Regions from separate parts of the Homo sapiens genome. Here region 2 is linked to region 1. The links come from fine-mapping of genetic effects on gene expression. A gene starts in region 1. The other region holds a variant in brackets. All regions are shown on one strand. Distances are between the middles of the regions. Region 1 holds the start of LIG1 (DNA ligase 1). Region 2 overlaps LIG1 (DNA ligase 1).

The links. PIP is the estimated chance that this variant, and not a neighbour inherited with it, causes the effect.
Region 2: its variant is fine-mapped to the expression of LIG1 in whole blood (TOPMed, PIP above 0.99).

What each region holds. Positions count from the first base shown.
Region 1 is chr19:48,168,004-48,173,367 of GRCh38, forward strand. It overlaps LIG1 (DNA ligase 1), which reads right to left and starts at 2,341. Exons shown (of 28, transcript NM_000234.3): 1 at 2,238-2,341. ZSWIM9 (zinc finger SWIM-type containing 9) reads left to right here and starts at 2,677. Exons shown (of 4, transcript NM_199341.4): 1 at 2,677-2,711; 2 at 3,791-4,074. The coding sequence starts at 3,800. RefSeq lists silencers at 1,780-1,849, 1,880-1,929, 2,730-2,869 and an enhancer at 1,823-2,482.
Region 2 is chr19:48,134,500-48,139,863 of GRCh38, forward strand. It overlaps LIG1 (DNA ligase 1), which reads right to left. Exons shown (of 28, transcript NM_000234.3): 13 at 3,023-3,189; 14 at 2,509-2,585; 15 at 1,535-1,626; 16 at 1,181-1,280. Among named protein-coding and RNA genes, the nearest start is that of LIG1-AS1, 8.7 kb to the right of the region's middle. The variant C/T (reference allele first, on the strand shown) is at 3,051.

The DNA.
Region 1 (5,364 bases):
CGATCCCTCCTGAGTGCTCAACTGCCTAGGTACTTGACATTCTCAATTATACTGACTCTCCACAACAACTCTGTTACAGAAACTAAGGCACAGAGGGGTTTTCAAAGGAACTTAACCTGCATCTATAGTACGTTCCACCCCAGGTCGGCCTGCTCCACAGCTCACCTCTTAACCACCAGACTGAGTTGCAAGGGAAGGAGAAATACATAAGCGTTTACTGGGAAGCCTACTCTATGCCTGACAGGCTGATCACATTCTCAAATACCCTCAATCCTCAAGTCAGCCCTCCAAGACAGGTGAGATCATCCCCACTTTATAGATGAAGGTAATGAGGACAGAGGAACATAGCTGGGGTTCAGGCAAGGCTTCAAAACCCGGTGTGGCTGGCTCCAAAGCCCACGTTCCTTTCTCCTTACCACGGTACTCAAGGCTGGCTTCTCAACTCTGTGTACTGCTGAGTTGGGGGGAACAAACTGGTTGATGCCTCTGGAGGACCACCTGGCGTCTCTATCGGAACGGCAACCCCACTTCTGTGTATTTGGCCCACAGAGACCCTCACAGGTGGACCAAGTGAGGCACAAAGTTACCTGCTGCAGCACTAACTGTAATGAGAGAAGACTGGAAACTGGTGGAATGTCTACCCTTAGGGAACTGGTTCCCTCATTACTGGAATACCATATGGTAGAATATTGTTCAGGGTTAAAATTAAATGAATGATGGATAAAAGGTATAGGAGTTTTTTGGGGGGATGATAAAAATATCCTAAAATCGATTATGGTAATAACTGCACAACTCAGCGCATACACTGAAAACCACTGACTTGTACACTTTAAATGGGCACTTTAAATACACTGAAATACACTTTAAATACACTGAAAACCGCTGACTTGTACATTTTAAATGGGCAAAATTGTACACTTTAAATGGGCAAACTGTATAATTGTGAATTATATCTCAATAAAGCGGTTACCAAAATGAAGAGATAATGACAGGAAAAATATCAAGTAAGGATGAAACAGTACTCAGTAATAAAAAGAAACGAAGCACTGATACAAGCAACAACTTGGGTGGACCTCCAGGGCATTGTGCAGAGTAGAAAAAAGGTAACATCCTAATAATATATGATTCCATTTACATAACAATCTCCGAATGACAAAACTAGAGATGGTGAACACATTAGCGGTTGCCAGGGGCCTGGGGAGGAGTTCTTATGTGGAGAGGGAACTGTTCTATATCACAATTACGATGGGGGTTACACAAATCTATACAAGGAATCAAGCTGCACGGGCACACAGATGCACAATCACACTCACACCACACAAACTGGTGAAAACTGAACAAGGTCTGTAATCTAGTTAACAGAACTGTATTGATGTCAATTTCCTGGTTTCGATATTGGGACTACATAAGATGTCACCATTAGGGGAAGATGGATATACTCTTTTCACAACTTCCTTGAATCTATAATTATTTCAAAATAAAAAGTAAAAACAAGAGGTAAGCTCCATCCCTTTATCAAGCATACATTAGGCCAGACGTCTCCCCATTCAGATGATTCTCCATCTTTTACGAGCCCTTTACCTAGACCTGGACCTTACCACTGACCTCTCCCTGACACCACCCATCTCCCTCCAGTAGGGCCCACTCCTTCCAGGTGATGCTGCTGCCCGCGATTTACCTTCTTCTAGCCCCGCCCCCTCAGCACTTCCAGGTGGCCCCCGCCCCCTCAGCACTTCCGGTTCCCAGCCAGCCCCACCCTTGGCACCTCCCCCTTCCAGGTGGCCCCGCCCACACGCAATCTTTTCCCCGGCCCCGCCCCTTAGCTCCCTTCAGCCCCTCCCCCTCCCAGATAGCCCCGCCCCCTCGGGGGGCCTTCCGATTTCCAGCTGGCCCCGCCCACACAGTTTTCCCCCCCCCGGCCCCGCCCCTCAGTTCCATTTGGCCTCTCCCCTTTCCAGGTGAACTCGCACCTCAAGGCCTCTTCTCAGAGGACCTGTCCAACTGTCTCTGTCTCTCGTCTACCCTCTACCTGGCCCCCCTCCCTCTGGGAGACACCTCTCTGCACTCTCCGGCGGCCCGCAGCCCGCGCTCTTCCGTCTCCACCGCGCTCTCGGCAGCCTCAGCGTCCCCACGCCCACTCCTCTGCAGACACCCCGACATGGCGAAGCATAGGCCCCAAGCATTCGGCGCACCCGCCGCCCTCCGCCTCCCATCTGCTTGCGGACGGCCCCACTTGCCTTGCGTTGGTCCCGCGCGCCGCTGCCCGGGCAACACACTCAGATCCGCCAGGCGCGCCTCTGCAGTCCCAAGTTCGCGCCACGGCATTCGCGCGCAGACGTCTGCGGGCGGGGGCGGGGCAGAGCCTAGGGGCGGGACCTGGGCACCGTCCGCACCGCCGCCGTCGCGCGGAGGACACTGGGAGTCGTAGTCTCCCGAATGGGAGGAGGGCGGGAAAAGGGGTGAAGTGGGGCGAGCCCTCCCGCAGAGCACACTGGGAAAATGCCCGCGCTTTCCCTCGCCCTGGATGAGCGGGTGTGGCTGAGGGTCTGAGGAGTGACTGGCAGGGAAAGAGGAGGAATCGGTGGAAGCGCCCCCGCGAGGCACGGCGGGAAGAGAGGCGGGAGACCGCGCGGGGCATCCCGGGAGCAAGGGCCGGGCCAGGCCTGGGCGCGGGGCATTGTGGGAGGTGGACGCCGCTCCGGGGCGGGTAGGTGAGTGGGGAGGGGCGGGAAGGGTGCACATCTTGGGGAGGGGAGAGGCACAGCTAGGTGGGACGGCGGGGCTGGAAGGTGCCGCAGCGGGCGGGGAGGGGGGGAGTAGGAGGGTCGGGAGCGGGCTGGATGGGGCTGCTCGAGGGGAGACGCGCAGCTGGACGTGGGGGGAGCATCTGGGGTGAAGGAGCCCATCCGAGGACGAGGGGCCATGTCTAGAACGAAGATGCATATTGCGGGGGATGGTGGATGTAACTGGGAGGAGGGGCCCACAGCTGGACTGGGGGCCGCATCTGAGGAGGAGGGGACCACAGGTGAATACTGGTGACACTTCCGAGGAGAACTAGCCACAAGTGGGGCACACACCTGTAGGCGAAGCGTGGATAACTGCATGTGGGGAGTACATCTGGAGATGAGAGTGTCTCAGGGAAGCCCCAGCTACAGCTGCATGTGGCGAGCCATAGGGTCATAATCGGGGGAAGGGGCAACAGCTGCACGCCAGAGGCACATCTGGGGAGTGCGGAGCCACAGGTGCATGAAGCATGTGACCGGGTGAGGGGTCCGTGGCCTGGATGTGGGAGCACATCTGGAGATGGAGCGTCTTTGGAGGGGTTACAGCCAACTGTTGGCACATGGAAGGAGGAGTTCCAGATGAATACGAGAGTTAGAAGTTACTCTTGGGTGAGAGACACAGCTGGAAGGGGAGGAGGTTTTAGCTGGAATTTGAGAACACATTTGAGGAGATGTCCTTAAGGGACATCTGAGCTTAAGGGTCGTATTTTGGGAGGAGAGATTCCAACTGTACCTAAGGGTCACATCTGCGGAGGAGGAGACGAGTTGGAATTAGGAATCAAGATGACAGGCTCCAAGTGAACCAGGGATAAGGCGGTGGGAGGAGGCCAAAGATAGGATGGAGGTTGATATTTATATATTTGGAGAAAAACAGGCACGTCCGACCCCGGGCTACCCACCTCGATAGAGGCACCAGCAACCGACGGGGCAGGCCAAGAATGGAGTAGATGAGATACCCCGGGTGGGAATGGGTCTGATATCCACCTGTTCTCCCCTCCTCCACGCAGGCCCCCAGGATGGAGCGGCCGGAGCCCCCACCCGGCACGGCTGCGGGGCAGGAGGAGCAGGAGCTGCGGGAGCGGGCCTTCTTCTCGTGGGCCGAGTTCAGCCGCTTCTTCGACGCGTGGTGCCAGCAGCGGCTGGCGCTCTTCTTCGTCAAGAGCTCCATGCACCTGGCGCGCTGCCGCTGGGCCAGTGCGCCCCCGCTCTACACGCTCATCGACGTGCTCAAGTACAGCTACGTGCGGCTTGTGTGCAAGGACGTGCGTGCGCCCAGCCGGCCCGCCGTGGGGTGCGTGAACCTGAGCCGCTGTCCTGCTGGGGGGAAGGGGAGCACCGGGGGTGGGTGTGGGTGGGAGACGGGCAGAGAACACCCCACCCAGAGATGCAGAGGGGGAGAGGCCAACTGAGGCAGCCAAATACACCTTGCAGAGAGGCGGGAGTCAAGGAGGGACATGTACTGAGAGAAGAAGAGGAGCTAGAGAGACAAAGATACTCACGGAGCAAGAGATGGTGTGGGCCCGACTTACAGACTTTTTTTTTTTTTTCGAGATGGAGTCTCGCTCTGTCGCCCAGGCTTGAGTGCAGTGGTGCCATCTGCAGCCTCCACCTCCTAGGTTCAAGTGATTCTCCCGCCTCAGCCTCCCGAGTAGCTAGGACTACAGGCACCTGCCATCATGCCCGGCTAATTTTTGTGTGGTTTTTTGTTTTTGTTTTTGTTTTGTTTTGCTTTGTGTTGTTTTTTTGAGACAGAGTCTTGCTCTGTCACTCAGGCTGGAGTGCAATGGCACAATCTCGGCTCACTGCAACCTCCACCTCCCGAGTTCAAGCGTTGTTTCTCCTGCCTCAACCTCCTGAGTAGCTGGGATTACAGGCACGCGCCACCACGCCTGGCCAATTTTTGGATTTTTGTAGAGATGGGGTTTCACCATGTTGGCCAGGCTGGTCTCAAACTCATGACCTCAGGTGATCTGCCCGTCTTGCCTCCCAAAGTGCTGGGATTACAGCCGCGAGCCACTGTGCCCGGCCTGACTTACAGAATGTAATAGAGACTTCGAGAGGCAGAGCGTAAAACACACACACCCCAAGAGGAGAAAATAGTCACGGAAAATTCCAGAAACATGGAGACATGGAGGCAGAGACACCAGAGACAGCCAGGGAAACAGAAGAGCCAGGTTTTGTACACGTGACAAAGACTGGGAGACAGAGACTGGGAGACTGAACTGCAGAGAAGCCGCAGGATAAAGAAAAGGATCCATCTATTCAGTGAATAAGGGGCCAGGTCCCATGCTGTGGGCTGGGGATATTCTAGTTGGAGCGATGGAGTTGGGCAAGAGACAAAAATCCCTGCCCTTCTGGTACTTTCTGACTGGACAGAAAGATTGACGTTAAAAGAACAAGCTCACAGGTAGTTCCCTACAACTGTGCAAAGAGGGGCAGGTGAGAAATCCAGGAGAGCCAGAATCACACCCAGGTGGCCAGGGGTATTTTAATGGACCCCAATTGTATTTTATTTAGTCTTTATTTTTTTGAGACAGGGTCTTACTCTGTTGCCCAGGCTGGAGAGCAGTAGTGCGATCTT
Region 2 (5,364 bases), 34 kb before region 1:
ATATAAAAGTTAGCTGGGGGTGGTGGCACGCGCCTGTAGTCCCAGCTACTCAGGAGACTGAGGCAGGAGAATCACTTGAACCCTGGAGGCGGAAGTTGCAGTGAGCTGAGATTGTGCTGCTGCACTCCAGCCTGGATGACAGGGCGAGACTCCGTCTCAAACAAAATAAAAATAGACAAAGGTTTTCAAGGCTAGGTTCCACCTACAAAGATTTTGATGTAGCTGGTGTGGGGTAGGCCTGAGGTCAGCAGCTGATAGAGCCCCACGTGCAGGCAGAGTTGAGCTTGCTGCCCGGGCCTGTTCACCACTCTCTGCTCAGCACCCAGTGGGGGGCCCTGGCCCAGAGCAGGTGCTCTGAGGCCATCTGTGGAACTGCCATCGGCCCTCCTGCCTCTGACATCCTCTCTGGGGCAGTCATGATCTTGGAGTCACCAGCCCTGGGTCAGCTGCTGGCCTAGGTCCCTCCACATGGCTCTCTCTGGAGCCCTCGTGGCCGCTCCACGGATGTCCTCTCCATGACTGTCAAGACCCTTCACCATGTGTCAGTCACCTGCTCCTCTCTGGGTCCCTTAAGGCCTTTCTGCATGCACAGCCCTGTCTGGCACTCAGAAACCTCATGTTGCCGGCTGCCCTCCCTTGCTGTCAGCGTCTTTCTTTTTTTTAAGACAGTCTCACTCTGTTGCCCAGGCTGGAACGCAGTGGCGTGATCTCAGCTCACTGCAGCCTCCAACTCCTGGGTTCAAATGATTCTTGTGCCTCAGTTTCCCAAGTAGCTGGGATTACAGGCTAATTTTTGTATTTTTAGTAGAGACAGGGTTTCACCATGTTGGCCAGGCTGGTCTCAAACTCCTGACCTCAAGTGATCTGCCTGCTTCAGGCTCCCAAGTGCTGGGATTACAGGCGTGAGCCACTGTGCCTGGCCGCTGCCAGCGTCTTTCTATACCTCTCCTGGGGTCACTGACCCTTCACTGTTTGCCACCTTCCTGATCTTTGTCACCATCCTTGTGTCAAGCACCAGCCTTGTCTAGATCACCACCTCTGCTCTCAGTCACCCCGTGACCGGCACTCGTGATGCCTGTCCGTCACTTCACTGGCCCCACCCACTGCTCCTCTGGCTCCACCCCCACCCTGGCACTCTGCCCACAGCCCCTGGCAACTCCACCCACTGCCCAGCTCTCACCAGAACGTCTGCTTCAGGATCATGCCTTGCTCCTCCAGCCACGTCTTTCTGGCCTCTGCTGTCTTGCCCTTCCCAGCATCCACCATGGCTGGTGGGAATTCTAAGAAAAGACCCACCAGAGGCTTTGGAAGGCACCCACATCCTTGGCTACACCAGGGTGCAGTGGGTGGTTTGCTGTATGGCAAGGAATGCAGATGCCGCGGCCCAAGACGCCCCCTCCCCCCCACCCAGGAGAGAGGAGCCTGGTATGGCAGGGGCCCGCTGGGGAAGGGGCGGGCATGGGCCTCTGAAGAGGAGGGGGGAAGCCTGAGGTAACTCCAGCGAGGGATGCAGAGACGGGCCACAGGAGCTCACCTTGGCCCGGGGGCGTGAGGCTCACTGCCTGGGAGAGGGCAGCCAGCACCGACTGCTCTGCCAGCCCAAGGCGCAGCCGTCCGCTCAGGGACCTGGGGAGAGAGCAGGCCAGGGAAGGGGGCTTGTCTGCACCTCCCCAATCTTGCCTCCTCCCTTCTCTGATCTCCTCGACCTTGATGTATGTAGACCCTCTCCTCAAAAACCAGAAGAATCTTCAGAGCCTGGAAGGGACCCCAGATATCACACAGCCCCATGTGACAGATGAGGAAACTGAGCCAGGCAGTAATGATCCTGCCCACTAGCATAGACTGGGGAGGGGCACAAGTAGGTGCACCAGCACCTCCCATCTCAGCTGCCCTGAGGGGTTGGCGAGGCTTGAGGAGGATGAGTCAGGGAGAGAACTGAGCCTGGCGCCCGCCCTGGTGACTGTAATGGTCAGGACCCCAGCATGGTCCTTGCTTTGAGCCAGTGGCAGGAGACAAGTGGCTTAGTTTGCCTCCCCATGTCTCCATTTCCCCTTCTATAAACTGGAGGTGAGGGTAACAAGACCAGTCTCACAGAGTTGCTGGTAGGAACTGATGAGGTAAGGCACGGGGCACAGGGCAGGGCTCCCAAGAAATGCTCCATGATGTGAGCCCTCAATGGATTTGCTCTCACTGTCATGGCAAACAAACCCTGGCTTCCTGCTGCAGGGCCCGCGCCCAAGCCGAGGCAGACCTCACCAATCAATCACAGCATGCTTCACCCACAGGGGCCCAGGGGCCTTCTCTAGACAGCACTACCAAGGGACAGAAGCTGGCCTGTGAAAGGAAATGGTGTCCCTTCCCACTCTTTAGGGGCTGGGCCTCCTGCTCATGCTTTTCTCATCCAAGGATGGTCAGGGCATTTGTGATGATTCCAGCTGCCAGTCCCTCCCTCCTTTCACCTCCGAGCCTGCAGTCCCCCTCTGTAGCCTCACAGGCCCACACGCTTACCTAGCGATGAACCGGGCTTCTGAGTGGCGGCAGGCCACAAAGAGGCCTTTGATGATGTCTATCTTCTTGGCTGTGGACTGGAGAGTCAGGGGAAGAGCCGTCAGTGCCTGGTGAAGGCAGGGACCACACCTCCACCCCACCAGCCGTGCTGCTGCCCTGCATTTTGGAATACCTGCCCTCCTTCCCTCACCCCATCCCCATGTCCCAGCTCCCATGGCCGCCCACTCTTAGGGCAGTAAGAACGAGCTAGCTCTCCTCCTTGCCTCCCTCTCCCTTTATCCAGGAAGTATTTACTGAGTCCTGTCATGTGGCAGCCATGGCATTAGGTCTGCTAGACTCTGAAGAGGAGACTCCCCTAGGATTGGGTGCAGGAAGGAGGAGAGGAAGCTGTGCACCCCATGAGAAGGACTGATGCGACCCAGCTGATGGTCTACCCAGAAGCCTTCCTGACACACGCGTGGCCTCAGGTCCCCAAGATGTCTGGGGTCCGGGATGAGCGGCCCGCCCCACTCACAGCACTGCCAGTGAGCCTGGCGATGTCG[C/T]GGAACTTGCTGAAGACCCCGGAGGCAGTGAGCGGAGGTGGTGGCAGCATGAGCCTCTGGGTGCTGCGGCTGTTCTCGGCCACCAGCCCCACGTCGCCTTTCTCGGCTGCCTCAGCCCGGACGGACTCCAGCTGCCGACCTTCAGGGGAGAGCGCGGGTGGGGGTGTCGAGGGTGACAGTTGTGGCTGCGTGTCTCCCTTCTCTCGCGGCCTGGATGAATTTTCTCCAGCTGTGTGTGCTTGTGGCGAGTCCCTGCACCTCCCTGTGTCTAACGCTCACCCACTTGGTAGAAATGGCTTGGGGAACGTGCCCCCAGCCACGCTGGCTGTAGGAAGTCAGCAAACATGCACGTGGAGCCAGGAAAGCGGTGGATGAACGAGCATGACCACACTCAGGGGAGACATCTGGGCCGGTGTCATCAGGGCGCGGATGGGATTTAAAGCCACAGGCGGGACAAGGTCACTAGGGAAGTGAGTGTGGACAGAGCAGAGAAGGCCAAGGGACCCTTTCCTCTGGCGGGTCATGAACATCTCTGGCAGTGACCAAAGACCCTTCGGCTTGTTTTGGAGCCACCAGCTTACACACGTGGGATGTGCTCTGGCCCCACTTACTGTCCAGAGCTGGGTCCCATGGGCGCCTGGGTGTAAGAGCTGGGGAGATGGAGCCTCAAGTCACGGTGACAGCTGTGACAAGCAGCTCTCAACCTATCAGAACCAACACACCCTTGTCACCAGATACTGTGTGTCACCTCTTTTCTGGTCTGAAATAAAATGTGGAGATAACATAACCTGCCTACACCTATCGAGATAACGCCCTAACCCTAACACAGAAAAGAATGAAAGGGAAAGCAATCCGTAATGAACGAACAAGTGCGCGTTTCAGTCCACAGATGCTCAGCCGCGGCACAGAGCACATGAAGGTGGGCCTCGCGCCTGAAGCGAAACTGCCACAAATGGGAGAGCCGACAGTGTGAGCCTCACCAATGGGATGTTATCGAATCACACATCAAAGGGGACGGGATTCTCCAAAGTGGCCAACAACTCACAACAAACCCGGGACTTGGACAGCCACGGGGGCCACAAGGCGGCACGGAGAGCAGTGTGAGTGTGAACACGACCCATCAAGGGTGGAGGCATGAGACAGTGGAAGAGGCCCCAGCTGCCATGGATTGTTGGGCAGGAAAGCCAGCATCTGCAACTTCTTTTGTGAGAAAAACAGATCCTTCTTTGTCCAAGCCAATGTAGTTGGGTTTTCTGTTACCTGCAGCTCAGAGTATTCTTAACCGACCCCGTGTGTGCTGGGTCTGGTATGACGTCAGTGCTCCCGAAACACATCTTGAGTGAATGAGTGAGAAAATCTTGAGTCTCATCTCCTCTGGCTCCCATAAGCCCGTAACTCTTTCCTGATCCAAGTCAACCTTTCTCAGTCCCTCTGTCCTCTCATGAAAGCCTGAAACCCCTGCCTTCCCTAAATGTTGGTGCCCATGGCCCTAAGCCAGCTCCAGTGCTCCCAGCACATCCTCTCCCCAGGCGGATGAGAACCCACCAGTGGGTGGTCATCCCTCCTACACTGACCAGCCCGAACCCTGGGCTCTGAGCCAGACCTGGTGAGCCTCAGACCCGTTTCCAAACTTCCTGGATGGCCCTGGGGGCCCACAGATAGAGGTTGCTCATGCCTGCCCCACGCTGGGGTGATTAATGCCCCCTGCAGGTGCCTGCCCCTCACCAGGGTCCCAAGCTGCCGACGGCTTTGTCATCCATCCAGTCACCCAGGGAGATCCTGGAGGCATTCCTCCTGCCTCCTCACCCTGACATCCACTGTCTGCCAGATCTCTCCTGCCCTCTTCTCTCTTCTCTACAGCTGGGGTCCAGCTCCTCTTCCCCCTGGATGCTGCCCCTTGCCTGCTCACAATCCTTCCATGGCTCCCCAGTGTCCTCATGATAAGCACCGAGCACTCCAGGCCCTTGGCAGGCGGGCCATCCGCATCACCAGCCTTTCCACCCAGCACTGGCGGCTGGGCCCCTTCAGGCTGCTGGCCCCCCACACACCATGTTCTTTCCTCCCACTCCTTCCAATCCCTCCAGTCAAAGTCCTTTCAGACCTCTCTAAGCCCCAACCTTCCATCTCAGCCCCCAAATCCTGCTGTCTCTGCCTCCAGCATCTTTCCCCAGCCCTCCCCTTCCCTGCACCCCACACCCCCTGTCCCAGCACATGCCTGGTCCTCCCTCACCTGAACTGCTGCCCCTGTGTTCTCTCCCACACCCCTGCAAATCTGTCCCCATCAGGCTCTCCTCCCTCTCAGCCTTCTCCTCAA